Homo sapiens: one gene and its partners. The protein of the gene in region 1 purifies or fractionates together with the protein of each later gene. This does not show direct contact. Each region holds a gene or a part of one and is shown in the gene's direction. Other genes may lie near its edges. The genes, in order: IL31, KIAA0319L and COL14A1.

Region 1 (3,752 bases):
TGAACCCAGGAGGCGGAGGTTGCAGTGAGCCGAGATCGTGCTATTGCACTCCAGCCTGGGCAACAAGAGCGAAACTCTGTCTCAAAAAAGAAAAAAAAAAATTAGCATAGTGATTTGTGCCTGTGGTCCCAGCTATTTGGGAGGCTGAGGTAGGAGGATCACTTGAGCCCAGGGGATCGGGGCTGCCGTGAGTTGTGATGATGCCACTGCACTCTGGCCTGGGTGACAGAATGAGACCCTGTCTCAAAAAAAAAAAAAAAGAAAGAAAAAGAAAGCTAATGAACTTAGAAATAGTTTCTAAGGCCAGAGTGGTGGCTCGCACCTGTAATCCCAGCACTTTGAGAGGCGGAGGCAGGTGGATCACAAGGTCAGGCGTTTGAGACCAGCCTGGCCAACATAGTGAACCCCGTCTCTACTAAAAATACAAAAATTAGCTGTGCGTGGTGGTGGGCGCCTGTAATCCCAGCCACTCAGGAGGCTGAGGCAAGAGAATTGCTTGAACCTGGGAAGTGGAGGTTGCAGTGAGCCGAGATTGCGCTACTGCACTCCAGCCCAGGCGACAGAGCAAGACTCTGTCTCAAAAAAAAAGAAAGAAAGAAAGAAAGAAAGAAAAGCAATAAAGTTTCTAGGCTGGCGCAGTGGCTCATGCCTGTAATTCCAGCACTTTGGGAAGCCGAGGCAGGCAGATCACCTGAGGTCAGGAGTTAGAGACCAGCTTGACCAACATGGCGAAACCCCATTTCTACTAAAAATACAAAAATTAGCTGGGCATGGTGGCACGTGCCTGTAGTCCCAGCTACTTGGGAGGCTGAGACTGAGGCATGAGAATTGCTTGAGCCCAGGAGACAGAGGTTGCAGTGATCACGCCACCGCACTCCAGCCTGGGTGACAGAGCAAGACTCCATCTCAAAAAAAAAAAAAAGAAAAAAGATATGAACAAGGATTTCAAGCAATAACTCTGGATCACAGTCTCTGGTTCTGGGCCCTGAGATTGCAGAGGCACGATGGAGAGTCCAGTGATGTCCAAGGCCACATGGAGTTGAGATGAAGCCTTCGACCCGCCACATTCACAGCAGTTATGGGGCCGTCCCTGCACACCGGCGTGGGCATATGCTGCAGAAATTTCCAGAGATACCGCATTCTGCACATCTCATGCCGGCTTCGCATTTCCTCCCCAGAAATTCCCTGTGGCCGCTGGCCTTGAACTCCTGGAAGTCACCCGCTCCTTGGTGGTATGGTCGTGTCTGTCAACCCTGGGCTTCAAAATTTTGTCTAGTCAAATCAACAGGCTCCTTCCAAGAAGAATGGCAAAGATGCATTCATGTGCCTTCTTGTGAAGTATGTGTGTGTCTGAGTCAGGCATCTGCCCACCTGGAGGGTAACCTCAGCATTTCCATTCAGCCCTTTCACTCAGCCGTGGCCAGTAGAACTTTTGAGTGTTTTCTGGAGAAAAGCTGAGTAAATGGTTTTGCCATGGGCGGGACGCTGACTGCTCTTTCTCCTCACCCTGGCCCTTTATATACCTCCAGGCAGCCATGGCGAACACATCTGGCTCCAGAAGCCCCCACTGAAGCTGGCCTTGCTCTCTCTCGCCATGGCCTCTCACTCAGGTATCACTGGTCCTGGTGCTTCCGGAGTCTTGGGCATCATCTTATCTCACCAGGAAGATTCTGGAAGCACTACCCCCAGGGTTGGCTCAGCAGGGCTGCAGGGATGGAGCCAGGGTGGGCAGGGGTGTGTGATGTATGCGCTCACGGCATCGTTCTCTCTCCAGGCCCCTCGACGTCTGTGCTCTTTCTGTTCTGCTGCCTGGGAGGCTGGCTGGCCTCCCACACGTTGCCCGTCCGTTTACTACGACCAAGTGATGATGTACAGAAAATAGTCGAGGAATTACAGTCCCTCTCGAAGATGCTTTTGAAAGATGTGAGTGTCCTAGAGATTTCTTTTCTAAACGATTTCTTAAAAATGCCTTCCATTGCCCTCCAAAGAGGCTCCTCTCTCCGGACCTGAAACCAGGGCTGTAGCTATGCCAGGAAGGGATGGGGGAAACTAGACAGGCAAAGATGGCTTTTTTTTTTTTTTTGAGACAGAGTCTTACTCTGTCACCCAGGCTGGAGTGCAGTGGTGCAATCTTGGCTCACTGCAACCTCTGCTTCCTGGGTTCAAGCGATTCTCCTGCCTCAGCCTCCCGAGTAGCTGGGACTACAGGCATGCGCCACCACGCCCAGCTAATTTTCATATTTTTAGTAGAGACAGAGTTTCTCCACGTTGGCCAGGCTGGTCTTGAACTCCTGACCTCAAGTGATCCGCCTGCCTTGGCCTCCCAAAGTGCTGGGATTACAGGCGTGAGCCACTGTGCCCAGCCAAGATAGCTTTGATCAAACAAACAAATGCCCAAACTTGGAAACAATTCATAAAATTGGCATTACTCTTCTCATCTGCCTTGGTATTTAGACCTTAGCCTTGGCTTTTATAAAAGGCAGAGGTTGTTACCAACCCAAGATGACTGGGCAGTTCAGGTTGATGAGGTGCTGCTGGCAATTTGGTCTGACTCTAGTTAGTACTTAGAAAGAGGAAGGGAGGGAGTGGTCCGGACTCCTTGGTTTGTTGGGGAAAACTCTCGCCTGCATCTCGGAGGCCTTTCCGGACAAGCCTAACACTCTCCTTTATAAGTGGAGCGTGCGTGGCTTTAACACAGAGTCCCAAAGGGCGGGGAGCTGCCATGGAAGGCCAGATGTGCTGCAATTCCCACCACCCTGAGCACGTGAGAGTGGGTTCTGGAAGGCTGGGAGGCCTCAGCTGGATGGATCAGTGGTTCTGAGCACAGGCTTCAGGACTGCAGCCACCTAAGCTCTAGTTTCATCTGGAAATGGGGTTGGTGATGGCACAGCCTCATAGGGTTGTGACATTGATCAGATAAATATATCAACGAGGCGGGTTACGGAGGAAGCATGCAAACATTCACTGTTAAGACTTGCAGCTGTCATTGCAAACCCAACACTGACCATTTCTCCTCATTCCACAGGTGGAGGAAGAGAAGGGCGTGCTCGTGTCCCAGAATTACACGCTGCCGTGTCTCAGCCCTGACGCCCAGCCGCCAAACAACATCCACAGCCCAGCCATCCGGGCATATCTCAAGACAATCAGACAGCTAGACAACAAATCTGTTATTGATGAGATCATAGAGCACCTCGACAAACTCATATTTCAAGATGCACCAGAAACAAACATTTCTGTGCCAACAGACACCCATGAATGTAAACGCTTCATCCTGACTATTTCTCAACAGTTTTCAGAGTGCATGGACCTCGCACTAAAATCATTGACCTCTGGAGCCCAACAGGCCACCACTTAAGGCCATCTCTTCCTTTCGGATTGGCAGGAACTTAAGGAGCCTTAAAAAGATGACCGACAGCTAAGTGTGGGAACTCTGCCGTGATTCCTTAAGTACATTTTTCCAATGAATAATCTCAGGGACCCCTCATATGGGCTAGTCCCGGGAGGGCTGAGATGTGAATTTGTGAATTACCTTGAAAAACATTAGGTTATTGTTATTAGTCTTGGTATTTATGGAATGCTTTTCTTCTGCAGGCTTAAGTCTTACTTATTATACCCTCGTGAGGGTGGGAGGTGGCAGCTATGTTAATTTATTGATATTTATTGTACTAAGAGTTGTCAATGCTCCCTGGGGGAGCCCTCGGAATCTATTTAATAAATTATATTGAATTTTTCTCATAATCTGTGACACATTT
Region 2 (3,652 bases), on another chromosome or scaffold:
GTTCTGCCTGTCTGGAGGGCCATGGAGAAGAGGCTGGGAGTCAAGCCAAATCCTGCTTCCTGGATTTTATCAGGATATTATTGGCAGACATCTGCGAAGTGGTTGAGAAGCCTGTACCTGTTTTATACTTGCTTTTGCTTCAGCGTTCTGTGGTTGTCAACAGGTACTATTTTCTTTATAGATTTAAGATTTTTTTTTTTAGAAAAGGGCATTTTATGTGAGTCCCTCAGTTCATTTTAAGGACTATTAGGAGGCAGAAAAAACAATCTGCTAATTGACAGAAATGGTCATCCTTTTGGTGACTGAGGTCTGTTGGGTTTATTTATTTGTTTTGTTTTGGAACCAGAGTTTAAATTGGATTCTTTTTCATAAGGGAGAATTGGCACAACCGTTTTAAGACTTGATAAAAGTCAACTGGGTATTTCCACTTAATGACTATAAAACCTTGAGCAAATTACCTATTATCTTTGAGGAAGGGTTATTATCTACCTCATGGTTTGATTTGAGGGATAGTATAATTAAAGCATGTAGCACAGCACTCAGCATGGGTGCTTAGTCTTGCTATTTGCCCAGGCTGGTCTTGAGCTTCCTTTCCTTTCCTAAAGGAATCTACACTTATGGGAAAAATGCGTTCCTTACTTTTTCCATAGAGAGGGGCTATGTTGATAGATTTTTTAGACTATGCTTTCCTCCTAGAGATTATTTCACCAGGGTAAAGCCTCTTGCCAGGAATCAGTGCCAAGAAGGCTAAATTTCAAAGGAGAATGCCCTTTCTTTCTTTCTTTCTTTCTTTCTTTCTTTCAAGTTCTTTTGTTGATATTGTGCTTTCATAGTATGAGTGTGAGAAAACAGCAATATGAGAAAGATTTCTGTGTATGCTGCCATTCTGGCCAGTGACCAAAAACCTTCTGCTGTAGAGACCACCATCTGGGATAACTAATCAGCCTTTTTCCCTTATAATTACAAAGATTTCTGTTGCTTTCCTAAAGGAATTGGTGGTCATGATTTTGAGACCCTAGTAATTATTGTATTTAGCAATTTCAGTAACATCAGCTTTGGGGTTTTTGTTGTCTTGCAGTGATGGTTGATGATTGCATAATTATAGCAGTGGAAGTTGTACTTGACAGAAAGCTGATCTACATGGTTTTTTTTTTTTTTTACCCCAGATGATGCTTTGCTGGGACAGCTGACTATTTCAGGTCAACATTTTATATAAGATCATTAGAATTAAATAAGTAATTGATTTAGCACCATCAGAATAGGGAAAAATCACTTCTTTAAAAAAAAGAGATGGGGTCTTGTCACCCAGGCTGGAGTGCGATGGTGCCATCATAGCTGCCTGCAGCCTCAAACTCCTGGGCTCAAGCTGTCCTCTTGCTTCAGCCTCCAGGCATGAGCTAGTATGCCTGGCTAATTTTTTTTTTTTTTAAGACAGTGTCACTCCATCATCTAGGCTGGAGTGCAGTGGCACAATCTCGGCTCACTGCAAACTCTGCCTCCCAGGTTCAAGCGATTGTCCTGCCGCAGCCTCCTGAGTAGCTGGAATTACAGGCGCACACCACCACACCCGGCTAATTTTTATATTTTATCCTTTTTATATTTTAGTAGAGGTAGAGTTTTGCCATGTTGGCCACACTGGTCTCAAACTCCTGACCTCAAGTGATCTGCATGCCTCGGCCTCCCAAAGTGCTGAGATTACAGATGTGAGCAACTACACCCGTCTGCCTGGCTAATTTGTACATTTTTTTAGGAGATGGGGTCTTGCTGTTTTGCCCAGGTTGGTCTCGAACTCCTGGCTTCAGTCGATCCTCCAACTTTGGCCTACTGAATAGCTGGGATTGCAGACACCAACCACCATGCCTGGTGTAAATCACATTTTTTGAAGCACACCTACCACATACCAGACTCCTAATTGTAAACATTACATACCTTATCTCATTTAATCTTCATGATAACCCAAAAATAGATAGTTTTCTTCTCATTTTATAGATAAGGAAATTGAGGCCTAGAGAGGCAGAATGACTTGGCCAAGGTCACACAGCAAGAACATGGTGGAGGTAGGATTCTAAATCCAGGTTTGTCCACTGTAGAGCTCATACTCTTTCTCTTCTGGTACTCTGCCTTCCAACCATAGGGGATGTTTTGGAGGACCAAAGGTTTTTTTTTTGAAACGGAGTCTCACTCTGTCACCAGGCTGGAGTGCAGTGGCGCAGTGCGATCTCTGCTCACTGCAACCTCCGTCTCCCAGGTTCAAGTGATTCTCCTGCGTCAGCCTCCCGAATAGGTGGGACTACAGGCGCATGCCACCACACCCAGCTAATTTTTGTATCTTTAGTAGAGACCAGGTTTCTCCATGTTGGCAGGATGGTCTCCATCTCTTGACCTCGTTATCTGCCCATCTTGGCCTCCCAAAGTGCTGGGATTACAGGCGTGAGCCACCATGCCTGGTGGCAATTTTTTTTTTTTTTTTACCCAGTACCATGGTAAGCAGCTTCCTATTTGAGGGATTCAAAGTATAGAGGATGAAGAAGCAATTCCAAGTCTTTCTGTGCTTTCCAATCTAGCACTTGGTTAAACACAGCATTGTAGGCTCATTGTGCAAGTCTTTAGTAACCTTGAGCTTGGTGCTTAAAAACAGCACCCTAATTAAGTATAGAAGTGCAAAGGTGGTGGTGTTAGGTGTAGTTCTGGTGGGGATTAGGTTATGCCAGTTCTATTTTAGAAAAATTTGGAGCTTTTATCATGGAAATTAAAAGATCAAGAGCCATGTATGTTCAAATTGAGGGAACATGCAAGCAACATGTGACAGACATATTTGTTATATACTTTGATTTAATTGGAGCTCCTTCCCATTTTTTTTTTAAAAGGAATATCCTAATAGAAAAAATAAATAGGGCTGGGCGCGGTGGCTCATGCCTGTAATCCCAGCACCTTGGGAGGCCGAGGCGGGTGGATCACCTGAGGTTAGGAGTTCAAGACCACCCTGACCAACATAGTGAAACGCCGTCTCTACTAAAAATACAAAAAATTAGCCGGGCGTGATGGCATGCACATGTAATCCCACCTACTCAGGAGGCTGAGGCAGGAGAATCGCTTGAACCCGGGAGGCGGGGGTTGCAGTGAATCAAGACCGCACCACAGCATTCCAGCCTGGCCAACAGAGCGAGACTCCATCTGAAAGGAAAAAAGAACAAATAAATAAAAGGCATAAACAGAGTGCCATAAATAAGAAGTTAAAATGAATATATTTAAAATGTTCGTTCTCATTACCAATCAAAACGACAGATTAAAATGAGATATCCTTTTAAATCTATCATATTGATGAAAATTAAAGTAAAACTATCCAGTGCTGCCAAGGGGTGATGTGGTTGTCCTCATATAGTGCTGAGGAGTTTGAAAAGAGAACTTCTTGGCATAAATATCAAGAGCCCTAAAAAAATTCATATTTTTCGACTTAATTCTTCATTTAAGAATTTATCTGAAGGATACACTTAGATAGTTGTGAATGAGAGCACTGATCAACAGTCATTTATTCTGTGCTGCAAAATATTGCTGAAACCTGCTTAATTATAGGAGAGTGGTGAAATCTTTGCATCTCCACATGGTGGGATACTATCCAGTCTTAAAATTCATATTTTAAAAGAAAAGCTGG
Region 3 (3,652 bases), on another chromosome or scaffold:
TCAAATAATAAAAATCAATTCTTTGATAATTTATTTTGGGTGCAGTTGGGTGTTATACTTTCTGTTGTACATCCCAGAAGTGTGTAAGCTCTGAAACAGTGGAAGGCCTGATAAATTCTATTTCATTTCTGATGACCACCATATGTACAAGTTAAAAGATTGAAGTTTCTTTTCCAGGATTAATACCAGGGAGCAATTTAGCCACTAAAGCAAATAGAACTAAAAGGGAAGCTTTCTTAGGCCCCTATTTTGTTAATTTCCTCAAGATACTTGGAAAATAATATTTAAAAAAAAAATGAATATGGCACTCTTGTTTTTTATAGTTAATGAAAACAGCCAAATAGAAAAGCTAAGAGTTTTGGAAATTACTGGAAAAGTTTTAAGATCTGTTATTTCCATGGTTTCCCTAATTTATGATATTGGTGAATGCTGGAAACAGAAATGGAAGGCCACCCTGGACTGATGGGCCCCAGTTTTCCTTCTTTCCTGTGCTTTCCTAAAGCAAAAGATTCCTCAAAGAGTCTTCTACACCCCTGGGAGATACTTGGGTTTTGGCTTTCTTGCCTTCTCATTTCCCTAACAAAACCTCCTTCCTCGGTTTACAGAGGAAGTTCCAGCCCAGCAATACTTAGAAATTGATGAGGTGACGACAGACAGTTTTAGGGTGACCTGGCATCCCCTCTCAGCTGATGAAGGGCTACACAAATTGATGTGGATTCCAGTCTATGGGGGGAAGACTGAGGAGGTGAGTTTTCTGAAACAGACTGAAAATTAATCTGGAGCATTAGTGAATACCTACTGCTGCTGGAGTTGGTCTTCACTTTAAAATATATTAGGAATCCCAGAAGTAATTAGTATTTTACATGGCTTGGAGTTTTAGAAATGTCAAATCATAAGATTTTCCTAATATTATGATGTATTGTTGCCAGAGCTTTAGTTATATATTTATATATTTTCAGATTCTTTGACTTTAATAAATGACATTTAATACAACTTTAAAATGTCACTTTTGCAATATTAATAATTTATTTGCTGAGGGGATTGAAAGGAATAAAGTCTCTGGCTTGACCTTAAAATGGACTTCGACAGCCTTGGAGTTCTTTATGATTGGTTGTTTCTTGCTTATGCTCAGAATAACACTTTTTCTTTACTTTTTTTTCAAATAAGCATAGTTACTAAGCACCAAAATATATTTCAGGTTGTCCTGAAAGAAGAGCAGGACTCACATGTTATTGAAGGCCTGGAGCCCGGTACGGAGTATGAAGTTTCACTATTGGCCGTACTTGATGATGGAAGCGAGAGTGAGGTGGTGACTGCTGTCGGGACCACACGTAAGTCTTGGTCTGGCCACAGTGCGTTTTAGCTGCTCCCACAATCCCTCTTTACCCCATCAATTTCCTTCCCCATCTGCTTTATCTTTGGCTATGTAAGCTTCAATTTCTCTTTGTCCCCCAGAATTCTTCATATATCTTCACTTTCAATGAAACCAGTATGTGAAGCATCTTAGCTTCCTAGATAATGATCAACATGAAGGCAGGGACCATATCTGTGTTGCTCACCATTATATTTTCCAGGACTTAGCACAGTACTTGGCACATGTTAACTGTAGAGTAAACACCCATCAAATGGATGGATGGATAGATGAATGGATGTATGCAAGAATGGATAAAATAATTTACAAATGAATAGATTGCCAAACAAATAAACCTAGGGCCAACATGTCAAAGAGTTTCTGGAATTTTCCAAGTTGATATTGGTTCCAAGAGTCTTGTACAAAATTTACTTGCTGATTCATTCATCTCTTCATTTTTAAAATATGAGGTATTGACCACATATTAAATTGCCTTTGCCTGGGTTCCCTGGAACCAGATTCTAGACAGAAATTGCAGCCAGAAAGTTTATTGAAGAGTGCAGTTGGGAGATGCTTACGTAAAAAACTGAGGACAGCAGGAGGGGGCATGGGAAGAAGTTGAAACTGAACCCTCAGCTAATCTTATTATAATGGAGGTCTAGTGCTGGGATGACCCTTCTGAGTTGTCCCAAATTGAGACAAAGGGGCTGAGACTTCATACCCTTGCATCCCCAGTCGCTGGAGGTGAGCCATTCCCTGACAGAGGCCATGAACTCAGGCGAGACAGTTCCCAGAGCTGTGAACTGTTGGCAGGCAGTGTTCCAGCACCAAGTGGATTGGTGTGTTGACCCTAAAAAGAGGATCTGGGAAGAGCACCACATCTGTACTTCATTCTGCTATATGCCCACGGTGGCTGTAAGAAATAGAAGATGCATTGCTTGTCCAAGCACATTGCATTCCGTGGTGGTCCTGTTTGGCAGCCTTTTCACAACTTGGTCTACAGCACTGTCTAATTTCCCTTAATTACCATGGCTGTGCCCCTATTTCAAAGTAATTGGGTGGTTTCACAATTCTGTAGATGTAGTTCAAATGTTTATATGAAGCCTGGTATCTGTGATGAGAAACTTTAACATTCTTTGGGTTTCAGTTTTCTTATCTGTGGCACAGGTATGTCTGCCTTACTTACAATTCATTTCTTTCGTCTTCTAACCATTGTCATGTTTGTTGTGGGAGGCAAGTGAGATAATATAGGTGAAATGTTCTTTGAAAGCTACAACATGCTATAGAAAAATGGACAGTTGTTTTTGCAGCATTTTAAAGTAATATATTGCTTTTAGTTGACAGTTTTTGGACAGAACCAGCTACAACCATAGTGCCTACCACATCTGTGACTTCAGGTAAGGTCAAATAGTAGCCTGCTTAACCACTTTAAAAATTTTCTTTAAACAGATGTTATATTATCCTGGTTTTATTTATTATTAACTAGGAAAAGAGATGACCCTCCCTTCCTTTTCTGGCACACTGGTTCAAATTTCACGCCTCTCAGAGCCTCTCAACACCTTCCTTGCCACTAAATGCCCATGGATCTCCTAGTCAACTGATCTCACTGATACATCACTCTACCTCTTTCATCTTTGTCTGGATGCTCATGCACCTTACCTGGGATGTTAACGTAGCTGCCTCCCCAGGGGTCTTTGCCCTCCTCTTTTTTTTTTCTTTTTATTTTATTTTATTTTATTTTATTTATTATTATTATACTTTAAGTTTTAGGGTACATGTGCACAATTTGCAGGTTAGTTACATATGTATACATGTGCCATGCTGGTGCACTGCACACACTAACTCGTCATCTAGCATTAGGTATATCTCCCAATGCTATCCCTCCCCCCTCCCCCCACCCCACAACAGTCCCCAGAGTCTGATGTTCCCCTTCCTGTGTCCATGTGTTCTCATCGTTCAGTTCCCACCTATGAGTGAGAATATGTGGTGTTTGGTTTTTTGTCCTTGCGATAGTTTACTGAGAATGATGATTTCCAATTTCATCCATGTCCCTACAAAGGACATGAACTCATCATGTTTTATGGCTGCATAGTATTCCATGGTGTATATATGCCACATTTTCTTAATCCAGTCTATCATTGTTGGACATTTGGGTTGGTTCCAAGTCTTTGCTATCGTGAATAGTGCCACAATAAACATACATGTGCACGTGTCTTTATAGCAGCATGATTTATAGTCCTTTGGGTATATACCCAGTAATGGGATGGCTGGGTCAAATGGTATTGCTAGTTCTAGATCCCT

Evidence for each region.
Region 2: the proteins of IL31 (region 1) and KIAA0319L purify together in Homo sapiens (affinity purification with mass spectrometry; one large-scale study listed by BioGRID and IntAct). This does not show direct contact.
Region 3: the proteins of IL31 (region 1) and COL14A1 purify together in Homo sapiens (affinity purification with mass spectrometry; one large-scale study listed by BioGRID and IntAct). This does not show direct contact.

The regions. Positions count from the first base shown.
Region 1 is NC_000012.12:122,172,015-122,175,766, reverse strand, and holds IL31 (interleukin-31 precursor), read left to right. Parts: upstream 1-1,545; 5' UTR 1,546-1,594; coding exon 1,595-1,610; intron 1,611-1,774; coding exon 1,775-1,923; intron 1,924-3,025; coding exon 3,026-3,355; 3' UTR 3,356-3,738; downstream 3,739-3,752. UniProt on the Homo sapiens protein: Activates STAT3 and possibly STAT1 and STAT5 through the IL31 heterodimeric receptor composed of IL31RA and OSMR. May function in skin immunity. Enhances myeloid progenitor cell survival in vitro.
Region 2 is NC_000001.11:35,550,861-35,554,512, reverse strand, and holds part of KIAA0319L (dyslexia-associated protein KIAA0319-like protein), read left to right. Parts: 5' UTR 1-21; coding exon 22-163; intron 164-3,652.
Region 3 is NC_000008.11:120,226,022-120,229,673, forward strand, and holds part of COL14A1 (collagen alpha-1(XIV) chain isoform 1 precursor), read left to right. Parts: intron 1-605; coding exon 606-745; intron 746-1,198; coding exon 1,199-1,331; intron 1,332-2,688; coding exon 2,689-2,748; intron 2,749-3,652. UniProt on the Homo sapiens protein: Plays an adhesive role by integrating collagen bundles. It is probably associated with the surface of interstitial collagen fibrils via COL1.